5 linked regions of the Homo sapiens genome follow. The protein of the gene in region 3 interacts with the protein of the main gene of each other region in a biochemical or structural test. Each region holds a gene or a part of one and is shown on either strand. Other genes may lie near its edges. The genes, in order: CRIPTO, SMAD2, ACVR1B, NEDD4L and OTUB1.

The links.
Region 1: the proteins of ACVR1B (region 3) and CRIPTO form a complex in vitro, tested with the Homo sapiens proteins (2 studies listed by BioGRID).
Region 2: of the proteins of ACVR1B (region 3) and SMAD2, one has a biochemical effect on the other in vitro, tested with the Homo sapiens proteins (one study listed by BioGRID).
Region 4: of the proteins of ACVR1B (region 3) and NEDD4L, one has a biochemical effect on the other in vitro, tested with the Homo sapiens proteins (one large-scale study listed by BioGRID).
Region 5: of the proteins of ACVR1B (region 3) and OTUB1, one has a biochemical effect on the other in vitro, tested with the Homo sapiens proteins (one study listed by BioGRID).

The regions. Positions count from the first base shown.
Region 1 is NC_000003.12:46,575,067-46,581,482, forward strand, and holds the start of CRIPTO (protein Cripto isoform 1 precursor), read left to right. Parts: upstream 1-2,721; 5' UTR 2,722-2,903; coding exon 2,904-2,938; intron 2,939-4,028; coding exon 4,029-4,081; intron 4,082-4,165; coding exon 4,166-4,300; intron 4,301-4,672; coding exon 4,673-4,787; intron 4,788-4,884; coding exon 4,885-4,994; intron 4,995-6,065; coding exon 6,066-6,184; 3' UTR 6,185-6,416. UniProt on the Homo sapiens protein: GPI-anchored cell membrane protein involved in Nodal signaling. Cell-associated CRIPTO acts as a Nodal coreceptor in cis. Shedding of CRIPTO by TMEM8A modulates Nodal signaling by allowing soluble CRIPTO to act as a Nodal coreceptor on other cells.
Region 2 is NC_000018.10:47,842,359-47,848,140, reverse strand, and holds part of SMAD2 (mothers against decapentaplegic homolog 2), read left to right. Parts: intron 1-2,340; coding exon 2,341-2,478; intron 2,479-2,656; coding exon 2,657-2,801; intron 2,802-5,782. UniProt on the Homo sapiens protein: Receptor-regulated SMAD (R-SMAD) that is an intracellular signal transducer and transcriptional modulator activated by TGF-beta (transforming growth factor) and activin type 1 receptor kinases.
Region 3 is NC_000012.12:51,988,718-51,994,499, reverse strand, and holds part of ACVR1B (activin receptor type-1B isoform a precursor), read right to left. Parts: intron 2,638-5,782; coding exon 2,507-2,637; intron 516-2,506; coding exon 390-515; 3' UTR 1-389. UniProt on the Homo sapiens protein: Transmembrane serine/threonine kinase activin type-1 receptor forming an activin receptor complex with activin receptor type-2 (ACVR2A or ACVR2B).
Region 4 is NC_000018.10:58,364,167-58,369,948, forward strand, and holds part of NEDD4L (E3 ubiquitin-protein ligase NEDD4-like), read left to right. Parts: intron 1-101; coding exon 102-167; intron 168-1,832; coding exon 1,833-2,062; intron 2,063-3,579; coding exon 3,580-3,701; intron 3,702-5,782. UniProt on the Homo sapiens protein: E3 ubiquitin-protein ligase that mediates the polyubiquitination of lysine and cysteine residues on target proteins and is thereby implicated in the regulation of various signaling pathways including autophagy, innate immunity or DNA repair.
Region 5 is NC_000011.10:63,991,343-63,997,124, forward strand, and holds part of OTUB1 (ubiquitin thioesterase OTUB1), read left to right. Parts: intron 1-5,187; coding exon 5,188-5,306; exon of another isoform or gene 5,307-5,514; coding exon 5,515-5,599; intron 5,600-5,707; coding exon 5,708-5,782. UniProt on the Homo sapiens protein: Hydrolase that can specifically remove 'Lys-48'-linked conjugated ubiquitin from proteins and plays an important regulatory role at the level of protein turnover by preventing degradation.

The sequences.
Region 1 (6,416 bases), on a different chromosome or scaffold from region 3:
CACAAAGCACTCATTGGCCTGGAGGCTGGCCAGCAGCCCAGTTTCAACAGTGACCAAGCAGAGGTGACCAGTGGCCATCCTAGGGTAGCCATTCAATTCCCCCACCTGGAGGCAGCAACAACTTTTTGCAGTTAGTACAATTAGAATCAACAATTACTGTTCTTTCTCTCCAGCCTCACAGTGGGGTTACTTCTCACAACTGTTTCTCCAGCGCCAAACTCCAGTCTACAGGCCGCCCAGTAGTAGACATCAAATACCTGTTAAATAGCCCTTACATCTCCAGCCCAACGGCAAATATCTAACCTCTCTTAAACACCACAGCCCTTCCCTTCCCCTTCTCCCCACCCCCCATCCCAAAACCTGGCCCAGGCTCTGAATACCCTGGATCCACTTGGCTTCCTCTGCAGTCAGTACCTATGGGGAATGGGAATCTCTTCAGGGGGTTCTGGTCCTTAGAGAAGGGATTTTGTGTGGCTGAAAAGCTGGCATCCTGGGGTTCTGGTCCCGTCAATGACAACATCGCCAGACTGGAGACCTCAGTTACTTCCTCTGAAAATGCAGTGATTTCCAGGGGTCCTATTTAAGCTCTAAAAATTCCACAAGAGCTTTAGATAAGGAAATAGCAACGCAGGGGTGTGTTCTTTTGCCAGTTCTGCCACAGGCCTGCCCAGTCTCTAAAGACAAGACATCCAAATCCCCCAATAGAACTAGTTGTCTTGTCCATAAAGTGAGACTAATATTGTGGGCGCTACTTATCTACTTAGCACCTTGGACTGGTGAGGACTGTGGTGCACAAGCTACCTTACAAATGTACCACACTGAGTAACATCTTTAAACCTCCTTGCAGCTCCAGGGCTAGCCTTCTCCTTTGCGGAGCCCTCCCCCACCTCCGGCCTCCTAGAGCTTCAGGCCATGTTCCCCTGTCCCCTGTGAATCTCAGCATGCTACCTGAAGCATTTCACCTGAAAAGGCCACACAGGGAGGAGGCGAAGCGCAGCAGGAATGAAATAGTCAACTGCTGTGGAGTTGGAAATGTTGCTGCATCCCACCATTGACTGGATGGGGCCTCACTCCCCCAATACAAATTATTTTACGTTTGCTTCTCCCAAGATCATGTGTAAGGCCGGGCGCGGTAGCTCATGCCTGTAATCCCAGCACTTTGGGAGGCCGAGGCGGGTGGATCATGAGGTCAGGAATTTGAGACCAGACTGACCAACATGGTGAAACCCTGTCTCTACTGAAAATACAAAAATTAGCCGGGCGTTGTGGCGGGCGCCTGTAATCCCAGCTACTCAGGAGGTTGAGGCAGGAGAATGAGGCAGGAGAATCACTTGAACCCAGGAGGTGGAGGTTGCAGTGAGCCAAGATCGTGCCATTGCACTCCAGCCCGGGTAACAGAGGGAGACTCTGTCGCAAAAAAAAAAAAAAAAAAAAAAAAAAAATCATGTGTAGAAGTAAATAACACCTCTTCCCAGCACCTGTGGATCCATGGCATTCACACAGGTAGGCACTGACGCTGAAATGGCCTCAGATGCTACCAATTCTTTCTGCCGAGGCCTAAATCCAATAAACAGAGATGGATGGAAACAACTATCTAATAAAAGTTTCGCATTTGTGTGCCTGGCAACATTAAGTAACCGTCAGGCTTTCCTTTAGAAATTGGAATTAAATGCGATTTAGAAACTATTAACGACTTTGGGCGTATTTAATAACACATGAAATAACCCGGAGGATTGAAATGTTAGGTGAGGCGACTCCGGCTCATAGACGCGCCTCTCCATCTGGGGCGTCTGGCACTTAGTGGAACCACTCAATAAACACGTTTACCCCTGCAAGCGGCACATCAGAGTCCGGGGGTAATTCTCGGTGTCGTGGGGCCAGGACGGCGAGGGGCTGGAAGAGGCCGCCCTGTGGGAGCTGGGAGGCTGAGATAAATTCCCGTGATTGGGGGCTGAAATGGCCTCCCATGCCGGACTGCCGTGGTTCTAGAACTTTTTCCTGGAACAGGCCGGCACTCCCACTGGAGAGTCCCAGCTGCTGCGCCTCTGGCCGCCCCTCCCCTCTCCCGGGCACCTGGCGCCGGCTCCCGCGTCCTTTCAGGAATTCACGTCCGCCTGGAATTTGCACTTCAAGTCTGGAGCCCCCAAGGAACCCCTCCTGACCCTGAACTTCTATCTCAGTTTCAAGCTTCCTAGTCTTCCCCACACACACACACCTAGCTCCTCAGGCGGAGAGCACCCCTTTCTTGGCCACCCGGGTATCCCCCAGGGGGAGTACGGGGCTCAAAACACCCTTCTGGAAAAACAAAGGTGGAAGCAAATTTCAGGAAGTAAAACTTCCTGAAATAAAATAAAATATCGAATGCCTTGAGACCCATACATTTTCAGGTTTTCCTAATTAAAGCAATTACTTTCCACCACCCCTCCAACCTGGAATCACCAACTTGATTAGAGAAACTGATTTTTCTTTTTTCTTTTTTTTTCCCAAAAGAGTACCTCTGATCATTTTAGCCTGCAACTAATGATAGAGATATTAGGGCTAGTTAACCACAGTTTTACAAGACTCCTCTTCCCGCGTGTGGGCCATTGTCATGCTGGTGGGCGTCCCGCCCACCTGAAAGGTCTCCCCGCCCCGACTGGGGTTTGTTGTTGAAGAAGGAGAATCCCCGGAAAGGCTGAGTCTCCAGCTCAAGGTCAAAACGTCCAAGGCCGAAAGCCCTCCAGTTTCCCCTGGACGCCTTGCTCCTGCTTCTGCTACGACCTTCTGGGGAAAACGAATTTCTCATTTTCTTCTTAAATTGCCATTTTCGCTTTAGGAGATGAATGTTTTCCTTTGGCTGTTTTGGCAATGACTCTGAATTAAAGCGATGCTAACGCCTCTTTTCCCCCTAATTGTTAAAAGCTATGGACTGCAGGAAGATGGCCCGCTTCTCTTACAGGTATGAGCTAATCTTGAATGTGAACTTTTTTTGATTGCTAGAGATTGCCAGCTTAGGAAGTAATGTTCTACACCTGTCATTTGATTTTTCTCTTGCTCAAGCCTTAAAAGAGCTGCCAACCGCACTGCTGTTTTTCCTGAAAGACCTGGAATTTCACATGGTTACTTCTAACTTTGCCATTGGCTTTTAACATTTTCGTGTTAATGTTAATTTTCATTTTATGTTAATGACTCTGCCTATGAAATAGTGTTTCTTTATTCTTGTACAAATAAAGGTCAGTACTACAACCAAATTTAAAATCTTCCGAAAAGATTAAAGGTATAAGCAGATTCAATACTTGGCAAAACTATTAAGATAATAGCAAAAAAAAAAAAAAAAACCCACATTTTTTACCTAAAAACCTTTTAAGTGATTGGTTAAAATAGTTTGGCCGGGTGCGGTGGCTCACGCCTGTAATCCTAGCACTTTGGGAGGCAGAGGCGGGTGGATCACCTGAGGTCAGGAGACCAGCCTGGCCAACATGGCAAAACCCCGTCTCTATTAAAAATACAAAAATTAGCCAAGCATGGTGGCGGGCACCTGTAATCCCAGCTACTCTGGAGGCTGAGGCAGGAGAATTGCTTGAACTGGGGAGGGGAGGCAGTGAGCCGAGATCGCACCATTGCACTCCAGCCTGGGTGAAAAACCGAAACTCCCTCTCAAAAATAAATAAATAAATACAGTAGTTTGTAAAATGATTCATCGGTAACATGGGATGCAGCTATTTTTTAATCCTTATATGAAAATTGTATGCAGGGGAAAACATGTGAAATAGAAGATAAAAGACATATACCTACTTAAAATTAGGTACTTATGTGAGGACAGGGCCTAAGAAATAATAATATATATTAAAAAGACTTGGATATTGGTGACTTTTTTTCAACATTTTTCTTTGTTACATGAATTAGCCATTAAAAAAAGAAAGATGGTGCTCTACAATTTCTTTTCAGTGATCTGTGGTCTTGTCCTTGTGATGAGAGGACCTGGGTGTTAACTTGTAAGGTTTTATTTCCTTTGTTTGGCTAACTCATGTCTGACTTCCTCTTCCTAGTGTGATTTGGATCATGGCCATTTCTAAAGTCTTTGAACTGGGATTAGTTGCCGGTGAGAGACCTTTTGTTCTTTTGATCACTCTCAATTTTTATGTGGCCTAAAATACAGACTCCATGAATTGATTTTGTCGTTAAGGGCTGGGCCATCAGGAATTTGCTCGTCCATCTCGGGGATACCTGGCCTTCAGAGATGACAGCATTTGGCCCCAGGAGGAGCCTGCAATTCGGCCTCGGTCTTCCCAGCGTGTGCCGCCCATGGGGATACAGCACAGTAAGAACTGCCTGACTTCGATGCTTCTGCCCTGGCCCTTCATGTGTCTCCTGAGTATCTTTCCAACACTCTTTCACCTAAAAGGGCACCTGGTTCTGGAACTGTGCAGGTGCTGGACTGCTTTTGGTTTTGGAAGTGAGACAAGGATTGTGTATTTTACTTCCCTAGAGTGCAGTTTTCCTCCCCTGAGTCCACTTCACACTGGGGAACCCAGAACCACCACTGGCCTATGCATGAAAATGACTTCTCTGCTCAAAGGCACAGAGACTTACTCTGATACAACACATTGGTGTTGTATTAACCTTCGCTTACAGGAATTGCCCTTGCACTTTTCCATCCCTACACCCTCAGTCATCTGTTCTTACCTTTCAGGTAAGGAGCTAAACAGAACCTGCTGCCTGAATGGGGGAACCTGCATGCTGGGGTCCTTTTGTGCCTGCCCTCCCTCCTTCTACGGACGGAACTGTGAGCACGATGTGCGCAAAGAGTAAGCAATTCAGAGGGGCGGGGAGCCGTGGAGAGGAGAGAGAAAGGGAAGTGGAAATTTCAGACCCAAGGCTATCGCCTTACCTGTTCATTCTCAGGAACTGTGGGTCTGTGCCCCATGACACCTGGCTGCCCAAGAAGTGTTCCCTGTGTAAATGCTGGCACGGTCAGCTCCGCTGCTTTCCTCAGGCATTTCTACCCGGCTGTGGTAAGCGGAGGTTCTCCTCTTTCTTTTGCCCTTTGAAGTTACGTAGTTGCCTTGGGGGGTGCTTAGTTAGCAGGCTCTCCTTGTACCTCTTGTCTTGCTAGAGCCTGGCAGCCAAAGTTCTGCTTATAAAAGCATCGCAGACTCCTGATGAGATAGTTGCCTTGGCCTCTTTGATATTTATTTCCTCGGGAACCTGGCTAGTCCTGCTGCCTTTCAGATAGAGATGTATTTCAAGTCTATTTGACATTTTATGGTCTGAACTTCTATTGAGGAAAATAAACAAGTCTCGGTCTCTTGTTAAACCAAGAGATGTTCTCTGGTGTTCCTTTCCTTTGGGTAGGGGGACCCAAACCAGGATGGGCAGCTCATTTAGAGCCCACCCTGACGACAAATTCTATCAGAGGCTTGGCCCCTTGCTAGTCCTTTAGAAACTTCCAGAGTCCTAAAAGTCCCTGGTAACCCCCTCCCCATACCTTACCATGACTGGTCACAGAACCCTTACCATGACTGGTCACAGAACCCTTTCACCTTCTTGATTTTTACTGATTTGAGGAATACAATGAAAAGAAGGGCAGCACCTGGAGAGGAAAAGAGGCGACAGTCCTCTCTCCACCCTAGCCTGAGCCAGGTTTCTAGGGCCCCCCAAATTCAGAGACCTATTATAGTTCTGGGCCTTGGAGATGTTAGAAATGGAAAATATTCAAGTCCAGGAAGTAAATGAAAGCAAACATTTCACTGAGAACAGGAAGGAATTCCCCAATCCAGACAGGGATTGTGTCTTTGCCATTTGCATCCTGGGTGTCAGGCTCAGGATAGGTGTTTGATAAGTGTGGGTTGGGTGATTGGATGTGTAGGGAACATGTTCTCTTCCTGGAACATGGGGCCCAATCAGAATCTAACCAGGTTGTGCTCATTCCTGCAAGTGAAGGCATCACCACTGGGCTAGGTTCCAGGTGTGAGTGTCCTGAGAAGAGCAGGTTCACAGTAGCGTATAGATATGCCACATTTGTGGGCAGCAGGATGAACTGCCAGAGAGGTTTGCTTTAATGACCAAGCATCCCTACCTTCCAGATGGCCTTGTGATGGATGAGCACCTCGTGGCTTCCAGGACTCCAGAACTACCACCGTCTGCACGTACTACCACTTTTATGCTAGTTGGCATCTGCCTTTCTATACAAAGCTACTATTAATCGACATTGACCTATTTCCAGAAATACAATTTTAGATATCATGCAAATTTCATGACCAGTAAAGGCTGCTGCTACAATGTCCTAACTGAAAGATGATCATTTGTAGTTGCCTTAAAATAATGAATACATTTCCAAAATGGTCTCTAACATTTCCTTACAGAACTACTTCTTACTTCTTTGCCCTGCCCTCTCCCAAAAAACTACTTCTTTTTTCAAAAGAAAGTCAGCCATA
Region 2 (5,782 bases), on a different chromosome or scaffold from region 3:
TTTTTGTTTTGTTTTGTTTTTGTTTTTTTTCAGTTTCTTTATATAGCTCCCAGGTTTTTTCCCCCTTTGGTGAGTTTATATATTAAATGAAATCTGCTTGCTGTTCATCTGAAATGAGATATCTAAAACAAGAACTGCATTTAATATAGTTCAAAATATAATTCAGGGACATCTCAAAATGTGGTCTGGGGACTTCTGGTAGTCCCAGAAACCCTTTCAGCTAGTTTGTGAGGTCAAAGCTATTTTCATAGTAGTACTGAGATGCTGTTTGCCATTTCTACTCTCATACTCTCATGACTGTACAGTGGAGTATTCCAGAGCCTACATGCATATGATTTTGCAAGAGATGAAATGTAGATTTGATAATGAGACTCCAATTCTGTTACACTAGACATGAATGTTGAAATGTTGCCACTCTATTTTTTTTTTTTTTTTTTTTTGCTTTGGAAATATAGTTGTTTTTCATAGACAAAAATGGTGAAATGTTGCCACTCTATTTTTTTTTTTTTTGCTTTGGAAATACAGTTGTTTTTTATAAACATTGTTAATATGTAATGGATTTGATTTTTAAATGAATTTTTTAAATCTCAGTTTTTATATCTAATATGGTCATTTTCCATAATATTCACATAAACAAAAGCTCTTTGGGGTCCTCAGTATTTCCTTAACGATGAAGTGAAAAAGTGTGAGAACCATTCATAATTGAACATCATTCTCATCACCTTAAAGTAACTTCTTTTAACAGTAGTTTGCTTCTGTTTTTTTTCTAATTAACCATTACCTCCTGTGAGAAGTAATGCTGGTTATCAAAGTGTGATTTTGATACTGCAAAATGATAGTGACTAGAAGATCTATTACTTGGTTCCAAGTGGAAGTTCTCAAATCTTGCTTGATGTATAAATTTGGATAATCTTATTAAGATACCCAGTGTCGCTGTAGGTGCTTTAACTAAAATAGTTTTTTGTTTTTGTGACTTAATTGGGGTTCTGCAAAAAAATTTAATGGGTTTTCTCTGCCTTATTCTCTTCTCCCTCCAAAGTTTTAGATTGCTGTCGTTATTGGATTTTTTTAAATTTTTTATTTCTAGTTTTATAGGTGATATTGATCAGGGAATATAGCCTGAAAAATCTCTACTTTTTGGACTTAGTGTTTTCCCAATGACCACGTGCATGACTGTTTTACAGATATTCCATAGTCTTAACAGAACCACCGTACCAGGTTCTGTATTAAATCTGGAGTGTTAGTTGTTTGATTAGTTTTCTTTTGCTGTGTAACAAATTACCACAAACTCAGTGGCCTAAAACATCAGTTTTTTACCTCACGGTTTCTGTGGGTCAGGAGTCCAGACATGGGTTAGGCGGTCTTTTCAGGGTTTAACAAGGCCAAAATTGAGGTATCAGCTGGCTTGTGTTCTTATCTGGAGCTTGAGGTCCTCTTCTAAACCCACATGGTTGTGGCAGAATTCAGCTCCTAGATGCCTCCTGAATTCCTTGTCACATGGTGCCATCCATCTTCAAAGTCAGCAATGGAGAATGTCTCTTGTGTTGAATACCTTTCATGCTTTGAATCACTTAGCCTATGACAGTCTAGTCCCTTTTAAAGGATTGCCTGATTAAGGTTAACTGATTTGCTGCCTTAATTACATCTGAAAAAATCCTTAACAGCAGCACCTAGTGTTTGATTAACAGAGAATGTATGTGCACCTCAGGGCTGAGACTCTTAGGTGTCATGTTAGAACTCTGCTTCTCACAATTTTTTTTTTAATTCTTATATCTCATATTATTTTGCATCTGTGATCTCTCAGATTCTGAAAGAAGTATATTAAAAATCTCCCAGTAGAATTTTTTCTCACCTAATCATGCTTATACATCTAGAGGTTGGGTTTCCACCATAATATATAGTTTTTAAAATGGCAAATGACTTTTTGATGTTTTTACATCTTTTTTCTTAACATTAAGTGGGATCTCTAAGAAACTACAGTTGTAATGAAGATATATTTCTCCAAACATTAGTGAATTCCTTCAAAATTAACTCAATCTTTTACTTATCTTAATATATATCATTTGTATGAAACTATTTTACTATGTGTACTTTTTCTACATTGTTTAAATACTTTCAGTCAGTACACATGTATTTTAAAATCAATAAAATTATTGTTAGAAAATACTTGGGAGAAATATACAGTAGTATATTTAAAGTTAGACTTCAGAAAGACATTATCTGTGAAAAAGATCCTGGAAATACCTTATATCATTTTAGAATTTTTCCAAGAAAATGCTTCCAAAGTCACACTGAAATAGTAAATGTTACAAAACTAATCTCATTTGTATTTTGTTTCAGGAAGAGGAGTGCGCTTATACTACATAGGTGGGGAAGTTTTTGCTGAGTGCCTAAGTGATAGTGCAATCTTTGTGCAGAGCCCCAATTGTAATCAGAGATATGGCTGGCACCCTGCAACAGTGTGTAAAATTCCACCAGGTATGGATTCAATAATGTACATAAACCTATCATGTCAACTTGCTTAGTTTTTCTTGTTGCTAATTTTAGGAATCAGTAGATGATTGCATGCTCATATTCTAAAACTTGTAACCCTTTTAAAATTACTTTTTAATAATGATACTCTTTTGACAATTTCTTTTACCTTTTTTAATCATAGGCTGTAATCTGAAGATCTTCAACAACCAGGAATTTGCTGCTCTTCTGGCTCAGTCTGTTAATCAGGGTTTTGAAGCCGTCTATCAGCTAACTAGAATGTGCACCATAAGAATGAGTTTTGTGAAAGGGTGGGGAGCAGAATACCGGTATGAAATACATATTTGGTTCTTAAATTTCCACAGTGTAATTATGTTTCATTGCATTCTTGCATATTCTGGAGTTCATTTGTATCTATTTTCAATGAGGTTATAGAGTCAGCTGATCTTTATGTAAAATAAAGTTGGAGGCCTCCAAATTCAAAACTGTTGCAAATTACTGAGCTGCCATTATGGAAGATATTAAAACATGCACAGGCGTGCATTTTAACGTAATTCAGAGTGTTAAATATCATAAAAGGGGTGTATATGAAGGGTTATGTCAGTTTATGGAAGGAGAGATGTTTGCACACGGTGCTCAAGGAAAACTTGATGGCACATGATCTAGTTGTAAAAGGTGCATTGGATTTCAATAGTCATAAATGGGGTGGGCAGAGTTGGGAAGTGATAATCTTGACAATAGCATAGCAATTCAGTTTGGAGAATAGAAAAATAAGGCTGGACAATTAAATTGAGACAAACTAGATGTAGGTTAAGAGGAGGAACTTCATTCAGAAGTAGAAGGAATACTTGCTAATGTGCCAGGCACTGTGCTGTTTTAAGTGTAGTATCTAAAAATTATTATTTCTGTTGTCAATTCATTCTTTGTAAGGTTGAAATATATGAAATTGCCATCGTTGCAGGTAACACATGGTTCAAACTAATACATATTTGGAAATAGACATAGAAAGCTGATAATTTGCCCAAGGTTACATTATAAGTGGTTGAGATGGGACTGGAAGATAGTTCTCCTGGACTCTTTACCTCTTTTATAAGGATAGTAGTAACAATTATGTTTAAGTTTTACAAAAACTAATTTGTCATCAGTGGATAAGATAGTCTAGATTATTGATGAATTAAACAATAGATTGGATTTCACATCAAAGAGAGAGAAGACTTCTTGACCATATTTAAGAGTAGGAATTAAGTAAAATACTTAGTCTTTCTTCAATTCGTATTGCTTACTCCATATGCCTGCTTAAGAAATATTCATGTAATATAGTGATTGTATTCCTGCTTCTTCCAGCAATTTAGTCCCTTCCAAATTTATTTGTTTTGGACTTGCTTGTCTATCTTAAGTTTTGTCAGAAATCTGATTTGAGATTGTGCAATGTGAGGTCTACTTGTTGAATACATTTAAAAATATATGGTATATATTTGTATCAGAGAATGAAGACTTGTCACTATTTTTTTCTGAGTTATATTGGTAGAATAATTCATTTTGTGATTTTGCTGTAGTTCTGTTTTGATTATTACCCTTTTGAGATGTTGTTACCTGTTAAGAATGCTGAATGCCGTTTTTTAAAATTAGACTTGACCTGAGTTGATAGCAAAATTAGATTTAAATTATATTGTCTAATAAGATTTCAGGTCAGACTTTTTTTTGTTCTTCAGAAGGTTAGAATAATGCAAAATATGGTAGGAATTTAGTGGAAGTAAGAGTGAATTACAGAGAGAATTCCATGTGTATCTATAGATCTGCTAAGAACAGTTTTACTTGGTAAAGATACTGCCCTTCTTCATTCACTGTGGACTCTGCTGTTCTTTAACTCACAGATAAAGTAAAATCTGTAATTACAGAAGCAGTAATATGCAGTATGTTTTTATGAGTATTGGGAGTCAGGTACATCTGACTTTGGAAAATCAAGTAGTTTCCTGTAACATTTACAAATCAAAATGGCAAATATCCATCTATCTGTGGATATGTGGGTAGCTACCAGGAACTTACTGTCTGTAATCATTCTGGAGCTGAGGAAATAGACCTAATGTTTAGGTTTCTAAAACTATTTTTTTTAAATTTCCTTAATGTCATCTTGGTTGTTAGCACAAAAATGAGGAAATGTAGTAAACAGGAAATTTAGATGTATGAAGAATTTGTATTTAATCGAGTGGCAGCCTTCTTAAACCTACTCCCCTTGGGTGACCTGGATTATGGATTATTCTAGAAAGGGAAGTGGGACAGGGGAGAACAGGGCAGCCAGGACCATTGTTAAGCCATCTACCAGAGTGGGTGGGTCACTAGAACTGACACCCTTGGGGAAACTCTAGGAAACAGTAAACAGTCTACAGAATTATCCTACCCAGGGGAACAGAAGTGCTGGGCATGTAAATGTCAATTTCTGTTTCCTTGGTTGAGGGCTGCTCCTGGGGATGCTTCTTTCCTGGCACCTCTAGCCTTTTTGGGTATATCAGAGAAGTTCCTGGGCACAGAAATGCAGATACCTGCAGTTGGAAGTTGTCTAGAGCACACTGAAAAATCCAAAGGGTACAGTGGGGCACTGATACCATCTGCCTCAGAAAGTGACATCCTTGGAAGTACAGTTTTAAATTACATTGAACATGTGTTGCTTGGAGATGAAGAGTTGATAATGGGCTTTTCTCATATTTGAAGGGCTGTTAGTTTGTAGAAGCAAGTGGATTTATTGACTTTATTCTGTATAGCAAATAAGATGGAACTAAAATCAGCGCATGGAAGTGACAGGATGTCATTGAATAATTTGTAATTCTCTTAGAGTTGCCCCTTTTGTTGAAGCACTATTAAAAGCCCGAATGGTGTTGCTAAGAGGGATGTTCATTGGCTTTGGCAGGGAAAGTTGAATTCCAGCTTTTAACACTCTCTGTGGTGTGGGTTTAGCTTGGGCCAAAATTTTGTTTTTGCTTTGGTATACTTTTACTTAGATTCTGTTTGATATTTGAGTATCTACTATTCTGTGGTTGATTTGGTAAGTACAGTTACTTTATGTCTTGGTTTGCTTGGACAATCCTGATTCACGTGTCTCCTTTTGGCCTGATTTTTTTCTGCCCCCCACCCCGAGACAGAGTCTCACTCTGTCGCCAGGCTAGAGTGCAGTGGCATGATCTCGGCTCACTGCAGCCTCTGCCTCTTGGGTTCAAGTGACTCTCCTGTCTCAGCCTCCCGAGTAGCTGGGACTACAGGCACACGCCACCACGCCCAGCTAATTTTTATATTTTTAGTAGAGACGGGGTTTCAC
Region 3 (5,782 bases):
AAGGAAACCCTCAGGGCAGCTTAGCACTGGCAACACCTCGGTTCCTCCGGCCCCTCCCAAGCGCCCCTGTCATGGCTCCTGGCCACGTGCCAGATGCACCGGGTTTCGCGGGACTTCCCACTACAACCAGTTCGAGGTGTGGCACTGAGTTCTCCACACAATTCGCTCTCAGAGTCTCCATGCCATTAGGAGGTAAATAGAAAAGGTGTCTGTCTCAAACCCAACATGGGAGTGAGCGAGTCTCTCCCGGGCTCTGTCCCTCTTGCGGGCCAGGGCTCCTGGCCACAGAGGGCTGGGCAGAAACGAGAGGTAGGCCTCCATCGTACGCTCAACGCGGCAGCTGTGCGTAGTTCTCGCTGCCAGGAGCTCCGTGTGGAGAGAGGGAGCAGTTAGATCTTCACGTCTTCCTGCACGCTGAGCTGGGAGAGGGTCTTCTTGATGCGCAGGGCCGTCAGGCGGGCTGCGCCGTTGGCATACCAACACTCTCGCATCATCTTCCCCATCACCCGCAGTGCCTGTGCAGAGACCCAGGAGCCATCAGCTCGGTCATGCCCTGGAGAAGCCTTTCTGGTCCCTAGGCTCTCACTCATTTCCCTGCCACCTCCCGCTCAGTGCAGTCTGGCAGATCCACATCCACCCGGCGGCCGACCTTAGGGAAATGCTCTGCAAGGCTCCCTTTGTTCCCTGGCTCTTCCTTTTTTTTTTTTTTTTTTTTTTTTTTTTTTTTTTTTTTTAGAAGGAGTCTCACTCTGTCACCCAGGCTGGAGTGCAGTGGCGCAATCTTGGCTCACCGCAACCTCCGCCTCCCGGGTTCAAGTGATTCTCCTGTCTCAGCCTCCCCAGTAGCTGGGACTACAGGCACACACCACTACGCCCAGCTGATTTTTGTATTTTTAGTAGAGATGGGGTTTTACCATATTGGTTGGCCAGGATGGTCTCGCTCTCTCGACCTTGTGATCTGCCCACCTCGGCCTCCCAAAGTGCTGGGATTACAGGCATGAGCCACCGCGCCAGGCGGCTCTTCCTTTTTAAGGGACAGCTTACACAAGTGAAAGGCAAACGCTGCAGCTAACGGCCAGCTCTTTTGGTCTCACCTGCCCTCTGAAGCAAACCCTGCCCTGAGGGTTCCAAGGAGTGCGGTGAGAAGTGCTGCTCTATGATGCAACACGAAAGCATCAGCTAATATGCAATTCTGTTCTGAAATGCAGAAATGCCCTCTAGTGGTTAGACTCGTTAAAGGCAGAGCCAACCTCTCTACTTGACTAGGTAAGTTCTGGGGCTCTAATGGACGGCAAGGTGACTAGAGTCAACAATACTGTACACCTGAAATGTGCTAACAGTAGGTCTCAACTGCTCTCACTACACACACAAGCAACAAGGTGAGGTGACAGATGTGTTCACTAACTTGTGTGGTAATCATGTCACAATACATACATGTATCAATTCAGCACTTTGTACACCTTTGTTACAATTTCATTTGTCAATCACACCTCGATAGAGTTGGGAAAAAAATAAGTAAAAGGAAATGCAGAACCGCAAGTGAAAAGGAGGCCCATGAGCACTTAGCTAGGCGAAGCCTGTTCCCCTGAACACTCTTAAGACCCTAGAATTCCATGTTTATTAGTACGTATGTCACAAACATGTCCTCATGTCAACTCTTTCCACCAAATGTTGTTTCCCCCACACCCCTGATTTCATCTGCCGTCTCTCCCAAATTCACATTCTCCATCCCAATCCCAGCCCTGTCATACACATCACCTCCTCCCTTCTGAGTTTCTGGAAAGACCACTTTCCTCACAGGCATGTCCTCCTCCTCTGTCTGGTCTCAGGGCTTCTCTTATGGACACCTCCTCCTCACTCTTCCATGGAGCTCAGCTCAGCTCGGGCTCCAGAGCTGCTTTCCTAGTTTGGTGTCTAACAGCTCTGGGTTCAGTTGTCACTTGTTGACCACCTCCCTCATCTGTGTCTTGGAGACAAAGCCTTGTCCTTTTTCTTTTATGAGACAGGGTCTTGCTCTGTTGCCCAGGCTGAAACGCAGTGGCCCAATCATGGCTCACTGCAGCCTTGACCTCCTAGGCTCAAGCAATCCTCCCACCTCAGCCTCCCAAGTACCTGGGACTACAGGTGGTGTGCCACCAAGCCTAATTTTTTATTTCTTGTAGAGATGGGGTCTCCCCACATTGCCCAGGTTTGTCTCGAACTTCTGAGCTCAAGCTATCTTCCTGCCTCAGCCTCTCAAAGCGCTACGATTACAGGCCTATGCCACCACACCAGGCCCAAAGCCTTTTCTTCTTCTAGGCTGTGAACTCCAAATGGCACCCTACAGGGTCCAGGACAAGAGACTGTAGCCCTAAAGGGCTTGGGATATGTAAAATAGCACGTAATAGTAAATAATAACTGACACTCTCAGGGGGCTCCTCTGGGGCCTGACCCCATTGTCAAGAAACCCTTTTCTAAGGTGGAGAAATCAGGCTGATGGGAAAGCCGCAGGAGGCCAGCTTCTTACCTCATAACTCTGCCACCAGTTGGGGATGTTGGGACGCAGCTTCTGATCACATACAACCTTTCGCATTTCCTCAATGGAAGGGTCAGAGGGCACTAAGTCGTAATATGGCAGCTGATATTCTTCATGGACTCCTGGGAGAAAAGAAAGTATCTACCTGAGTTATCAACAGCAGGAAAAGATTACTCAGAAGCCGGTGACAAAACCTACACTGTGCTCTGTAAATACCACTACCCCCTAAGGTTCCTTAGAAAGTTAGTTAATTCTAAGTATGGAACAAGAAATACACAAAAGGGGCCGGGCATGGTGGCTCATGCCTGTAATCCCAGCACTTTGGGAGGCCAAGGCAAGCGGATCACCTGAGATCAGTAGTTTGAAACCAGCCCCGCCAACACGGTAAAACCCCATCTCTACTAAAAATACAAAAATTAACCAGGCATGGTGGCAAACACCTGTAGTCCCAGCTACTAGGGAGGCTGAGGCAGGAGAATAGCTTGAACCCTGGAGGCAGAGGTTGCAGTGAGCAGAGATCATGCCACTGCACTCCAGCCTGGACAAGAGTGCAAGACTCTGTCTCAAACAAAACAACTAAACAAAAAGAAATACAAAAGAGTAGCCAGGAACATTTTTTTTCATAGCCAAAGCAAGGAATCTATCAAAGACTACTGGGGGTCACATCAAAAGGCACCAACTTGATAAGCTCCCAACTGAGCAAAGATGGGAACTTTTAAGTAACAATAAGACAAATAACTTCAATGGAAACAAATATTTTTAAAGTCTAAAAAAGGAAATTTCAGTCACCTACCTCTGTGGGAGGCTACAGAACCACCTCATTATTTTGAAAAATGGTAAATAAGTGGAAAGAATCAAGTATTTTTTCTGCCTCTCCTATTCCAACTATATATCATGGGAACCAAATACATATGTAGGGGAAGTAATCATTCGCTTAGTTTTGGACAATATCACCACGGCACGTTAACGACACAAAAATAGAGAACCAATGCTACGCAACTTGTCACAGAAGGACAGAGGAACCCCTGTGAAGGATACGTGTCCCCGAACCCCCAGAAATGATTCTAGCTGCCAGATCTAACTACCAATTCATAGGAAATACCAGGAAGAGTAGAATATGTGAACTCTACCTAAGCAATCTGCAAAATCTAGCCTGGGAAATTCTACAGGACAAATGACCTGGATTCTCCGAAAAAACAGAGTGGGAAGAAAAAATGAGGGGGAACATGTAGACAAGAAATGTAGGAGGTGTATTCATCAACTGCAGGGGATAAAACTTATTGGAACCCCGATTTGAACAAACTGCTTTAAAAATTTAGGAGACTGGGGAAATCTCAACACTGACTAGATGTTAAGTGACATTAATGTTTGCCAGGCACAATGGCTCACACCTCTAATTCTAGCACTTTGGGAGGCCGAGGTGGAAGGATTGCTTGAACACAGGAGTTCAAGACCAGCCTGGGCAACATGGCAAAACCCTTGTCTCCACAAAAAATACAAAAATTAGTAGGGCATGGTGGTGCACCTGTAGTCCCAAGCTACTCAGGAGGCTGGAGTGAAAGGTTCCCCTGAGCCTGGAGAGGTGGAGGCTACAGTGAGCTGTGATCACGCCACTGCACTCCAGCCTGGGTGACAGTGAGACTCTGTCTCAAAAAAAAAAAAAAAAAAAAAAGCACTAAATTTGTGTGTGTGTGTGTGAGTTTCACTCTTGCCACCCAGGCTGGAGTGCAATGGCGCAATCTCAGCTTAATGCAACTTCCACCTGCCGGGTACAAGCGATTCTTCTGCCTCAGCCTCCGAGTAGCTGGGATTACAGGTGCCTGCCACCATGCCCGGCTAATTTTTGTATTTTTAGTAGATTCGGGGTTTCACCATGTTGGCCAAGCTGGTCTTGAACTCCTGACCTCGGGTGATCTGCCCGCCTCAGCCTCCCAAAGTGCTGGGATTACAGGTGCGAGCCACCGCACCTGACCCCTAATGTTCATTTTTTTTTCCTTTTTTGAGACGGAGTCTCCACTGTTGCCCAGGCTGGAGTGCAGTGGCACGATCTCGGCTTGCTGCAACTTCCACTTCCTTGGTTCACGTGATTCTCCTTCCTCAGCCTCCCAAGTAGCTGGGACTACAGGCGTACGCTACCATACCTGGCAATTTTTTTGTATTTTTAGTACAGACGGGGTTTCACTATGTTGGCCAGACTGGTTGCAAACTCCTGACCTTGTGATCAGCCCACCTCGGCCTCCAAAAGTGCTGAGATTACAGGCATGAGCCACCGCGCCCGGCCTAATGTTCATTTTTTAAAGTGTGGTAATAGCACTGCATTTTTTTAAGTCCTCATCTTTAAGAACTACAAACTTAGAAAGATTTTCCATAATAAAAAGATAGTTTTAAAAAGCCAATTTAGGCCAGGCACAGTGGCTCACGCTTATAATCCTAGCACTTTGGGAGGCTAAGGCAGGTGGACCACCTGAGGTCAGGAGTTCGAGACCAGCCTGGCCAACACAATGAAGCCCCATCACTACTAAAAACAGAAAAATCAGCCCGCAGTGGTGGTGGGCACCTGTAATCCCAGCTACTCGGGAGGCTGAGGCAGGAGACTGGCTTGAACCCAGGAGGCGGAGGTTGCAGTGAGCTAAGATTGTGCCATGGCAATACAGCCTGGGTGACAAAGAGAAACCCTCTCTCAAAAAAATAAAAATAAAAAGCCAATTAATTTTTCTCAAGCCCTTTTCCAGAAAAAGAAAAACAAAACAAAACAAAAAAACCCTGCTGTCTTGAGCTAATGAGACAATTTTTTTTCTTTTAAGTAGAGATGGAGTCTCTCCTACCTCAACCTCCTGAGTAGCTGAGATTACAGGCGCCCGCCACTACACCCGGCTAATTTTTGTATTTTTAATAGAGATAGGGCTTCACATTGGCCAGGCTGGTCTCGAACTCCCAGGTGATCCGCCCACCTTGGCCTCCCAAAGTGCTGGGATTACAGGCGTGAGCCACCATGCCTGGCCTTTATGTCTGGCTAATTTTTTTATTTTTGTAAAGATAGAGTTTCACCATGTAGCCCAAGCTGGTCTCAAACTCCTGGCCTCAGGTAATCAGCCCACCCTGGCCTCTCAAAGTGCTGGGATTACAGGTGTGACACAGTGCCCAGCCTGGGAAATATTTTTAAATAGAGAATTGGACTTGGTAATTATCTAAGGGGTAGTTACAGGCTTAAGCCCTGGCCTCAGCCTGTCCGAGTCTGAACCCTTGTTTACTAAAATAGTTATGTGA
Region 4 (5,782 bases), on a different chromosome or scaffold from region 3:
ACGGTTTATGACTCATGAAATTCTCTTGAATGTTGCCTCAGTATACATAAAATTTCAGGTGTATTGTTTGCATTATCTATATTTATAAATTTATCTTCCAGGCTGTCCCTTACTCCAGAGAATTTAAGCAGAAATATGACTACTTCAGGAAGAAATTAAAGAAACCTGTGAGTAATCATGCCTTCCAAAAATGCTTTGTGTTAGTCATTTGTAAGTTACCACAGTCACTTCAGTGAGAACAACTTGGTTGTTACTTTTATATGAATGCTAAAAATATTACCTTCCTTTTCTCTCTGCACTTTGATCCTCCTGGTTCTAAAATCTGAATTTTCTTTTTAACAGAAATGGTAAGTGAAAATTAACTCAGTGTTACATATCAAATCACCTGAAGGGTAATTTCCTATGTAATACATAAAAAGACAGGAATGATTTTTATGGGATATAAAATAATTCAGAACCCTAGTCACAAAATCTGTGGAAGCCTATTCAATTATGCGCAGTTATCATATTTAATTAACCTGGATCCCGGTAAGAAAAATGTTCAAGTCCTTCCTTGTAAATGCAAAAGCTTAGTTTCAACTACAGTATTTATAATATAGTGTTATATTTAATTATAATAATTGGCAGTATTACGTCCAAATGTAATTTTCTACTTATAATTATCCCTGGCAGTTTAAAACCTAGAAACTCTAAAAATTTTTATGGGCAACATTTTAAATTATAACATTGCATTTTCTAATGACACACCATCCCCAAATTGTTCAACATTGCATCCTCTGTTTTACTTTCCGATTCCTCCTTAGCAGTTTTCTCTTCAATTTTCTCCATCACTATGGTTACACCTCTAGGGAGGGGAGAGAAGCGGCTGCAGCTCAGACCCCCTCTGGTGGCCTGGGCTCCATTGCCATCTCTCCCTGCCTCCTCCCCTCAGCTGGTTCCTCCTGCCCGGGAACATCTCTGGATGGGGCACAATGTCTGCTCTCATTTAGGGGTTTTGGTCTCTGTTCCAAAGTCCTGATTCAAGAGCTTGCGGGTAACTGCTATTGAAATGATTCTTTGCCTTCAAAACTCAAATGATCACTGAAAATTCCACAGTTTTCTTTGTGAGTCATGTCCCCTGGTAATGATGATGACTGTGGTCATCACCCAGTCTCACTCTATGGCTCTCACATAGCAGTGTCTGCTACCCGGAAACCATCTCTGCACATTCATTCTTACAGCCAGACCAAGCCTGGACCGCCTCTTTGCAGGAGGCAGTTGCCACAACCTTGGTCAAGTGTTTTGTTATTTTCATGTCAGCGAACCATGCTTTGGGCTGCTTTCCCCACACTTGGCATAATCAGGATCCCACTCCCCATGGCAACAAAATGGACTTGAGGCAGCGTGGATTATATCTACCACCTGGCGGCCCTGCCACAGTTGAGCATGGATAGGCCCAACCTGGCCAGGTGGGGATTATTACAGGTTTTGACTACCTGGGCTAAAGTCTCTTGAGTGAAGCAACAGATACAGTCGACTGCCTTTCGGTTGCCCTATGCTGGAGAAGTGCCCACAGTTGTTTATTAAAGGGGGCAAGGAGGATGTTCTCCTTCGCAGCAGAGTTCTAACTTTCCTGAGCATCGCTAGTGGATGCCGTGTGTCCCATCGTGACACAGCAAGGCTTTCTGTCTGCAAGGGAAAACCCCTAAAGGAGAGAATCTCAGTTGGAACCATTTGTCACTGCCTGTTTCTTTGAGGACTGCCAACTTTTCTACCATTTGCTGTTGTTTTTATTAGAAAACAAAGTGTGTATTTACTGTATGATTATGTGTTTTCTTTTGTCTTTTGTGTAGGCTGATATCCCCAATAGGTTTGAAATGAAACTTCACAGAAATAACATATTTGAAGAGTCCTATCGGAGAATTATGTCCGTGAAAAGACCAGATGTCCTAAAAGCTAGACTGTGGATTGAGTTTGAATCAGAGAAAGGTCTTGACTATGGGGGTGTGGCCAGAGAATGGTTCTTCTTACTGTCCAAAGAGATGTTCAACCCCTACTACGGCCTCTTTGAGTACTCTGCCACGTAAGTATATGGCCACACCCAGTGTGTGTCCCCCACTGAGACAGTTGTATGAATTTAAACAGAATGAAAGGATAAGCAGCTCATGAGTTCGAGATGCATTAACTCTGCTGAGTTTGTTCTCTCCTCACCCCACAGCCCCTTGCAAGTCTAGAACAGGTTCTGACTCTACGTGGTGAAATAGTGTACTCTGCGAACATCTAACATTGATTTTTTTTCTTGTCTATTGGGTTCATGGAGTTGAAATTGAAAACGTGGATAATTATGATAAGGAACAGGAGGCGATTTTCATTTGCAGTGTTCAAGAGGAGGACTTGTCAGTGTTAGAATTCAAAAACAAAGGAGGTGTTTTTTGAACAAGAGTCGTTTCTGAGGTCTCCTGTGTAAAGGCAAATTGTAAGGACTTTGAGGACCTAGGACCATGCCCTGCTCCTGTAAGGAAAGAACCAGGTTTCCCCTTGCATTAGGATTTCATCATTGCCAGGCTTGGAAACTGAGGCAGACTAAATTGCTTTCTGAGCAATTAAACATCAGCTACTTCCAGGCCAGCCATTCCTCCTTCAGACTCTGAATCCTCCAAGGGTTGGGCAGTACCCAAGCCCCCAGTAGAATAGTCATTGACCTTGCTGAAGGGCATTTGTCATCACTCCAGCCCTGGGCTCTAAGGGGACGTGGGTTCCCCCACATCTCCCACCTGGTACCAGTCTCCTGGGGGCTCATTTGGAAGGCCGCCTCAGTACATTCTTCCTGGTTGCTCTAGCCAAGAATTGCCCAATTGATTTGTTGTTACTGAGTCCCATGAGAAAGCCCACTATGTACAATGTATCCAACTATTGAAGGTGGAGGGCAGGGTGGAGAGAGACAAGATCTTTACCTCTTCTCCACATTTTCAAAGATACCCCCACCCCGGAGGAATCAGTCTGTGATCCCAGTTTGAAAACTACTGATCCACATGATTGTGAACCAAGCAAGATCATTTGGACAAATCTAAAAATTTGCAGGTTTGCATCATTGAGAGAGCCATATCCTGTTCCTAATCCCCTCGAGGCCTTTTCAGAGCAGAGTAGTGGTCAGAAGACAGACCAAGGGTTGGGCCCATAGCAAACATCTTATGGCCAAGCCAAAAGCCTCTGGAAGGAATTAAACTTCCTTCATCACAGAGACGACCTAAAGTACTCACATCTTTGGGAATCCCTGCACAGCCCCTTTATTATGTGGCGTTTCTCATCTCCCCAAGATATTTGGCTGAACCATATGAAATAGACACTTCGTAGGTCAAAAACAGTCAAACATCAGCGTCTCTTATGGTTTAATTGACTTTAGAGGGCACATGCGTCAGCCTCCATGGTGGGTCACGGTTGAGCATGTGGTAAGTCAGGTCCTCTAGCCCACACATTTTCCCACTAGGTACAGAATGCTCGCAGGGACACTGTAAAAGTTGAGTGACAGGTGGCAAACAAATATGCAAAATCTTGCATTTGAAAGTGTGATTGGGCTTTTCTTCTCTTTCTCCTCAAAAGGGACAACTACACCCTTCAGATCAACCCTAATTCAGGCCTCTGTAATGAGGATCATTTGTCCTACTTCACTTTTATTGGAAGAGTTGCTGGTCTGGCCGTATTTCATGGGAAGCTCTTAGATGGTAAGTCTTGAAGTAATAAAAATAGGTCAGTGCTGCTTGCGGTTTGCTAGTAGGTGTCTTATCTTTCGCATCATGGGTTTTTAAGCAAAAGCTTCACTGGTTTACTCATAAAGTATTTTTATGTTTTGCCCATAATGGATGTCCTTTTCTCTGGTAGCTTATTTTGGGCACTGAAGACATAGTGTCTACACACAGTTAAAAACAAAAGTTTTTTTTTAACTTCAGTGTAAAACACAGAACATTATGTATTTATACATTTGTATGTTTTCTGGAATAACTTTAGTGAAAGCAAGATTTGATAACAGATGGAAAAACTAATTGAAAAGTTAATTAAAATGATCTCATCTATCTAATATCCTGTGATTATTGCGTTTGTCCCCAAATTATTTTTTAATTTGAAGGGACTAAATAATTTCAAAATAATGTTACTGCTTAGCTAAGACATTAACCCTGAAACAAATAACACAAAATAATTTCATTCTTATTTAAAGCATATAGATCATGGAAGAATTTCAAGGTACCTTGAAAGTTAGAAGTCAAACCCTCTACCTGGCGGTATCTATAGGCTTAGAGACTTCTAAAAGATTTGGCCAATTCAAAATAGTGTCCTTAAGAAAACACTACAGAAATCATCAGTGAGAAAAAAGCATCAGAAATACTTTTTAAGAGCCTGGAGGTAGAGTGGTTGAGGATGGGAAGAGGGAGAGTAGGATTTGAGATTGACATTGCAGTAACTTATAAGAAAGATATTTCCAAGGGAACTGTGTTCATTGCATTTATAGAGCCTTAGCTATTCTAATAAATAATTTGTATACCCTCTGTACTTTTCCCATGAATATGTTTTTACTGTTAATTGGTAGCTGATATTGATGCTCTGATTTTGTTGCTTTATTTGGTAGCAGGGCGACAGTAAACACTTTTTTTCCTCTAGAAGGAAACTAAACCACACACTCTTTCCATGTATGTATAGTGTGAATATATTTTAATTTCCAGCTTTGGAGTCATGCCATAGATTGTTTCAGCCTGCTCCAATTCACTCCAACTTTCTCAGAAGGTCAGTTTAGTCACCGTATGCAAGTGAGAAGATGCTGTTAGTTGCTACAGTGTCTTTAATACCCTCTCTAACAGGGGGTAATAGAGAAGCATAAGATATGATCCTGACCTTAGTCAGCTTATATTTTAGCGGGGGGAAAAGAGATGAGAACAAAACCAGAAGAATCACAGTGATAGTGTCTGAGCAGAAGGGAGTGCATTGAGTCCTCAGAGGAGAAAGTGACTTGGCTGGAGGCTCAGGGAATCTTTCCCAGGATGAGCTGCACCTCGGAGGTGGGGTAGCATTTGAGCGTTCAAAGGCTGGGGTCATTTCAGATGAGTGAGGACCAGCCCAGAGTCAAGGCCTTGTGGAAGAAGATGGGCGGAAGCAGGAACCACTCAGGGTCTCAAGGAGCTGGCTAAAGTGACCCCGACAAGAGTGATCACGATATAAACCTGGAATTGCACATTTAAGAGTCCAAGTGCACATAGATGGGCCTAGTCAGCAGTGTCTTCAAATTTCCCACAGATGGGAATGTCCCTGTCGGCAGGGCTCATTCTGCACATCTGTCCGATGGGAATGTCCCTGTCGGCAGGGCTCATTCTGCACATCTGTCCGCTGCTCCCCCTGGTCGGCTTCATGCTTTTACTTCCCCAGACACTGGAGTCTATTGGAGCCTGCATAGGGCCACGCTGAGCCGGGGAGAATTGGCCTGTACTGCAGAGGGTGGGTGCCTGGTGGGGGGATGAAGGAGCAGAAGCAGGAGCCTGGGGTGCCAGGTCTGGTGGGGTCAGGACCCCCTGTGAGGAGGTGCGTGATGCCTTTGGATCAGGTGAAATGGAGGCACCTGCAGGACGCCTGAATGGTGGGAGGCCGACCTCGCTGCTGTTGCCTCCCTGAGGCCTCTGCCGTCCCTCCGCGGGGGGTTGCACAGGCCCTCTCCGGGGCCTTCCCCATTTCCAGCCTGTCCCCTTCCTGTGCTTTCTCCCCATCGCTGCCCAAGCAATGATAACAGAAGACAGATGGAATTTCACCTGGCCTTTCACTG
Region 5 (5,782 bases), on a different chromosome or scaffold from region 3:
CCAGTGGGACCCCCCATGCCAAGGCCTGCCGCTCATGCTAGACCACCCTGGTAAAGTGGACAGGACAGGCTGGGCCCCAGGTTCTTCCCACGGAGTCATCAAACATTTGGATGTCCAGAGCATGCTGTCTAAAAGGCCTCTCTGTGCCCCCAGCACCCGCATTCTGTATGCTGTGCCTGAGCCCACCTTTTCTCCCTGGGCAGAGACAGCTGTGGCAGCAGAGCCCAAGCAGAGAGAGCTCCTCTCTCTCTAAATGGGCTCTTGTGAGGATCAATTAGGATGACGTTTATTCGCCCTGTGCCAAATCCCTGGCACAGAGAGTGTGCTCACAATGGCCATGGTGGCTGCTACAGTAGCAGTGGTGATTTGGGTTCTTTGTGGTCCTGGTGTGCTACTCATTTAACGTTTATTGAGAACGGACTGTGGTCCAGGCGCTGTTCTAGGTACTGAAGATAGAGCCATGCAGACAAAGTCCTGCCCTCACAAAACTTACAGTTCAGGGTGGAAAGACATGATAAGCCAAAGAGGGCTCTGGGACATGTGGGGTATCAGAAGGCGGTGAGTGCTGTGGAGAAAAATGAAAAGGGGATCGGGGCCGGGCGTGGTGGCTCACGCCTGTAATCCCAGCACACTGGGAGGCTGAGGCAGGTGGATCACCTGAGGTCAGGAGTTCGAGACCAGCATGACTAACATGGTGAAACCTCGTCTCTACTAAAAATACAAAATTAGCCGGGTGTGGTGGCGCATCCCTGTAATCCCAGCTACTTAGGCTGAGGCAGCAGAATCTCTTGAACCTGGGAAGTGGAGGTTGCGGTGAGCCGAGATTGTGCCACTGCACTCCAGCCTGAGTGACCAGAGCAAAACTCCACCTCAAAAAAAAAAAAGAGGGGATTGGGAGTGGGAGCATTTGCCATTTTAAACAGGGCTTGGTGAAGGCCTTGCTGATGAGGTGGTATTTGAGTAATGAACAGAAAAAGACCGGGGAGCGAGTCACAGGCGTCCGAGAGCAGTGCCCACCCAGGCCCGAGGCGAGAGGGCACCTGGATGGTTTGAGGCCAGCATGGAGGCCAGTGTGGCTGGTGGAGAATGAGGGGTTGGGGCTGGGGAACTGAGCGGGGCGGGGCGGGGTGGGGTGTTGTGGCGAGAGAAAGGACTCTGAGGGAGATGGAGATAGGGTGCATCTGGCAGGTGACTCTGGTCACTTTTCTTTTTTTTTGAGAGAGAGTGTTGCCCTGTCACCCAGGCTGGAGTGCACTGGAGTGCAATGGCACCATCTCAGCTCACTGCAACCTCCACCTCCCGGGTTCAAGCAATTCTCCTGCCTCAGCCTCCTGAGTAGCTGGGATTACAGATGCTCGCCACCATGCCTGGCTAATTTTTGTATTTTTAGTAGAGGTGGGGTTTCACCATATTGGCTAGGCTGGTCTTGAACTCCTGACCTCAAATGATCCACCCACTTTGGCCTCCCAAAGTGCTGGGATTACAGATGCCCACCACCATGCCTGGCTAATTTTTGTATTTTTAGTAGAGGCGGGGTTTCACCATATTGGCTAGGCTGGTCTTGAACTCCTGACCTCAAATGATCCACCCACTTTGGCCTCCCAAAGTGCTGGGATTACAGGCCTGGGCCATCACGCCAAGCCGACCCTGGCCATTCTCTTGCTGGGGTGAGAATAAACTCCAGAGGGTGAAGGGGAGGCAGGGACACTGCCAGGAGACTTGTGCAGTAAAATCTGCTGGAGGCGGGCAGCGGGTGGTAGAGGTGAGGAGTAAGAAGCAGTTGGATACCAGACATATTGAAGGGATGGATATGGTGATGGAGTCGGCAGCGACTGGAAGGCTTTGGGTGCTGTGGGTGACTGAGGTGGGGCAGCCTCGGGGAGGAGCAGTTGTTCGGAGGTTGATCTCAGCTGCACTCAGTGGAAATGCCTGTTGGACAGTTCAGAGGAGGTGTGGTGAGGCTGGTAGATAGGAGGATCGTAATTGGAGTTGAGAGTTGAGATTCACACTTGGGGCTATTTAAATCCTTGAGACTTTGGCTAGGGGCAATGGCTCATGCCTGTAATCCTAGCACTTTGGGAGGCCAAGGTGGGTGGATCACTTGAGGGCAGGAGTTCAAAACCAGCCTGGCCAACATGGTGAAACCCCATCTCTACTAAAAATACAAAAAAATTAGCCGGGCATAGTGGCGCGCGCCTGTAGTCCCAGCTACTCAGGAGGCTGAGACAGGAGAATTGCTTGAACCCGGAAGGCGGAGGTTGCAGTGAACCGAGATCGCGCTACTGCACTCCAGCCTGGACGACAGAGCGAGACTGTCTCAAAAAAAAAAAAAAAAAATTGCTTGAGACTGATGTCGTCAAGAGAGCAAGTATAATTTACATTTTTGTAGAGATGAGGTCTTGTTGTGTTGCCCAGGCTAGCCTTCAACTTGATCCTCCCCCCTTGGCCTCCCAAAACACTGGGATTACAGGTGTGAGCCACTGTACCTGGCCATGAGAGTGAGTGTAGTTTCAAAGAGGAAGCTGGCCGGGTGCGGCACTTTGGGAGGCCGTGGCAGGCAGATCACATGAGCCCAGGAGTTCGAGACCAGCCTGGGCAATATGGTGAAATCCCGTCTCTACAAAAAATACAACAATTAAATGGGTGTGGCGGTGTGCACCTGTAGTTCCAGCTACTCTGAAATCTGAGGTGGGAGAATTGCTTGAGCCTGGTAGGTTGATGCTGCAGTGAGCCGTGATCTTGCCACTGCACTCCAGCCCAGGTGACATAGAAAGCCCTGTCTCAGAAAAGAAAAAAAAAAGAAAAGTGGAAGCTGTCCCAGGCCTGAGCAGGGCGGGGTAGGCACATGGGAGACAGCCCTCATGCCCGTGGTCACATGGCAGGCACAGTGGCTAAGTGTGCAGTGACTGTTTTCCTTTTTCCTTTTTTGAAACGGAGTCTCCCTTTGTTGCCCAGGCTGGAGTGCAGTGGAGCGATCTCGGCTCACTGCAATCTCCACCTCCTGGGTTCAAGTGATTCTCTTGCCTCAGCCTCCAGAGTAGCTGGAACTACAGGTGTGTGCCACCACGCCCAGTTAATTTTTGTATTTTTAGTAGAGACGGGGTTTCACCATGTTGGCCAGGATGGTCTTGATCTCTTGACCTCGATATCTGCCTGCCTCAGCCTCCCAAAGTGCTGGGATTATAGGCGTGAGCCACCACACCCAGCCTCAGTGACTGTTTTCTTGCAGGTGACACACCATGTCTCGAAGGGTGCTGTATGGTTTGGTGGCATCCCTGACCCTCAGAGCTTAGAGAGATGAGGAGTGGCCTTGGAGGCAGGAGGAAGACAAGGAGAGGGTGGGGGCGCCAGCCCAGGGAAGGAGGCATCTAGGCAGGGCCACAGCCAGTGGCCTCAGTTCTGCTAAGGGGCCAGTGGGGGTGGGGCGCTGGGTTTGCCCCCTCTGATTGAGGGCGTTCAGCTGACCTTGGCTAGAGCAAAAGCCTCCCGAGGGAGAAAAGAGGTGGAGGCAGCACGGACAGCTTCATGAGGAGTTTTGCTGTAAAGAAAGCAGAGAAATTGAAGGGTAGCCAGACAGAAACGTAAAGTCCAGGATTCCCTTCCTTTTAAAGAAGTAGCTGAATGTGTATATGCTGTTGGGTCTAAACCAGTAGGGTGGGAAAAATTGATGATGGGGGTACTTCCTAGGATGATGTCTTTTTTTTTTGAGATAGGGTCTCACGCACTCTGTCACCCACGCTAGAGTGTAGTGGTGCCATCACAGCTCACTGTAGCCTCGACCTCCTGGGCCCACACAGTCCTCCGACCTCAGCCTCTCGAGTGGCTGGGACCACAGGATGCACCACCATGTGCAGCTCACTTGCTTATTTTTCAAGATGGAGTTTTGCTCTGTTGCCCAGGCTGGAGTGCGATGGCGCAATCTCGGCTCACTGCAACCTCTGCTTCCCGGGTTCAAGCGATTCTCCTGCTTCAGCCTCCCGAGTAGCTGGGATTACAGGCATGCACCACCATGCCGAGCTAATTTTATATTTTCAGTAGAGATGGAGTTTCGCCATGTTGGTCATGCTGGTCTCGAACTCCCGACCTCAGGTGATCCAACCACCTCAGCCTCCCAAAGTGCTGCGATTACAAGCGTGAGCCATCGCGCCCAGCCACTTATTTTTTTTAGAGAGACGGGGGTCTCACTGTGTTGCCCAGGCTGGTCTCGAACTCCTAGGCTTAAGCGTCCTCCCACCTTGGCCTCCCAAAATGTTGGGATTATAGGTGTGAGCCATGGCGCCCAGCTTGGAATGATGTGCTTGAGCCTGAGGGTGGGGGTGGGCTAGTGTGGAGTGGAGAGGCAGCTTAGGTGGCAGCTGGAACAGATCCTCTGAGGATTGTGGGAGGAGGCCAAAGGCAGATGTGCTGGTGGGGGCTGAGGAAAAAAGACAAGGTCATCAGCTGGGGGTAGGAGCAAGATGGGTAGGGGAGAGGGGAGGGTGCCCAGGCCAGGGGAGTGAAGTGTGCTTGCCAGGTGAAGTGTGCGTGGTGGGTGGGCACCTGTAATCCCAGCTACTTGGGAGGCTGAGGCAGGGGAATCGTTTGAACCCGGGAGGTGTAGGTTGCAGTGAGCCGAGATCGCGCCACTGCACTCCAGCCTGGGCAACAAGAGCAAAACTCTGTCTCAAAAAAACAAGTAGAGGAGGGAGGCTGTTTCTAGCCCCAGGAGGGCTGCGGGCAAGGCTTAGAGGTGGGGGAACTCTTCTCAGTGTGGCGGGAGCGGGGCTGAGCTGGGCTGTGCAGAGGGCCCCAGCCACCTGGTTGAGGCGTGGAGGCCAGCACTCCACCCTGGCCCTGACTTGCTTGCCCTGAAGTTCTCTTGGGCTGAAAGACTGGAGGAAACGCATTGCTCAAGGACATTCACTCACCTGTTGTTGTACAGTCCTGTAGGCCCCGCAGAACTTTAGTGACCCATGCAACTAGTTTGTCCTTAAGTGCCCAGCTTCCTGCCGTCTTTTGGGAGGACTCTGGGCAGTGGGCCGCTCCCATTGCCACATTCAGCAGCCTGTTTCAGGGACCCAGGGTGGCAGGTGGCTGCTGGGAGCTCAGTTGCCACCTTTGGAGTGTGACCTTTGCTGGGGGACATTTCCTTGGCCAGCCCCCGTTCTGGCCTGATGTTAACCTGTCGGGGTGGGGCTGTCTCCGCAGGACCTCCACAAAAAGTACTCGTACATCCGCAAGACCAGGCCTGACGGCAACTGTTTCTATCGGGCTTTCGGATTCTCCCACTTGGAGGCACTGCTGGATGACAGCAAGGAGTTGCAGCGGTGAGAAGGGTGGGCACTGGGCACCGAGGCAGGTGGGTGTCTACCTCCTCCCCGGGCGAGTAGGATGTGTCTCGAGTAGGGTGTCTCCCTCCTTCCCGGGCGATGGGCTGGACTCTGGCCTTGCCAGGCGGGGCAGTGCTGTCTCGGCCCTGGCGTCTGGGCTGGTCGAGGAGCCCATGCTGGGCCCGCCTTTCCATCCCACCCCCAGGTTCAAGGCTGTGTCTGCCAAGAGCAAGGAAGACCTGGTGTCCCAGGGCTTCACTGAATTCACAATTGAGGATTTCCACAACACGGTGAGCCCTGGTGCCTGTCTTGGGCTGGGCCATGGGGGAGGGGTTCACCTGGTGAGGACCACCCATCTCCTCCCCGTCATCTTGCCCTTTCTCCCTCCGTGGCTGCAGTTCATGGACCTGATTGAGCAGGTGGAGAAGCAGACCTCTGTCGCCGACCTGCTGGCCTCCTTCAATGACCAGAGC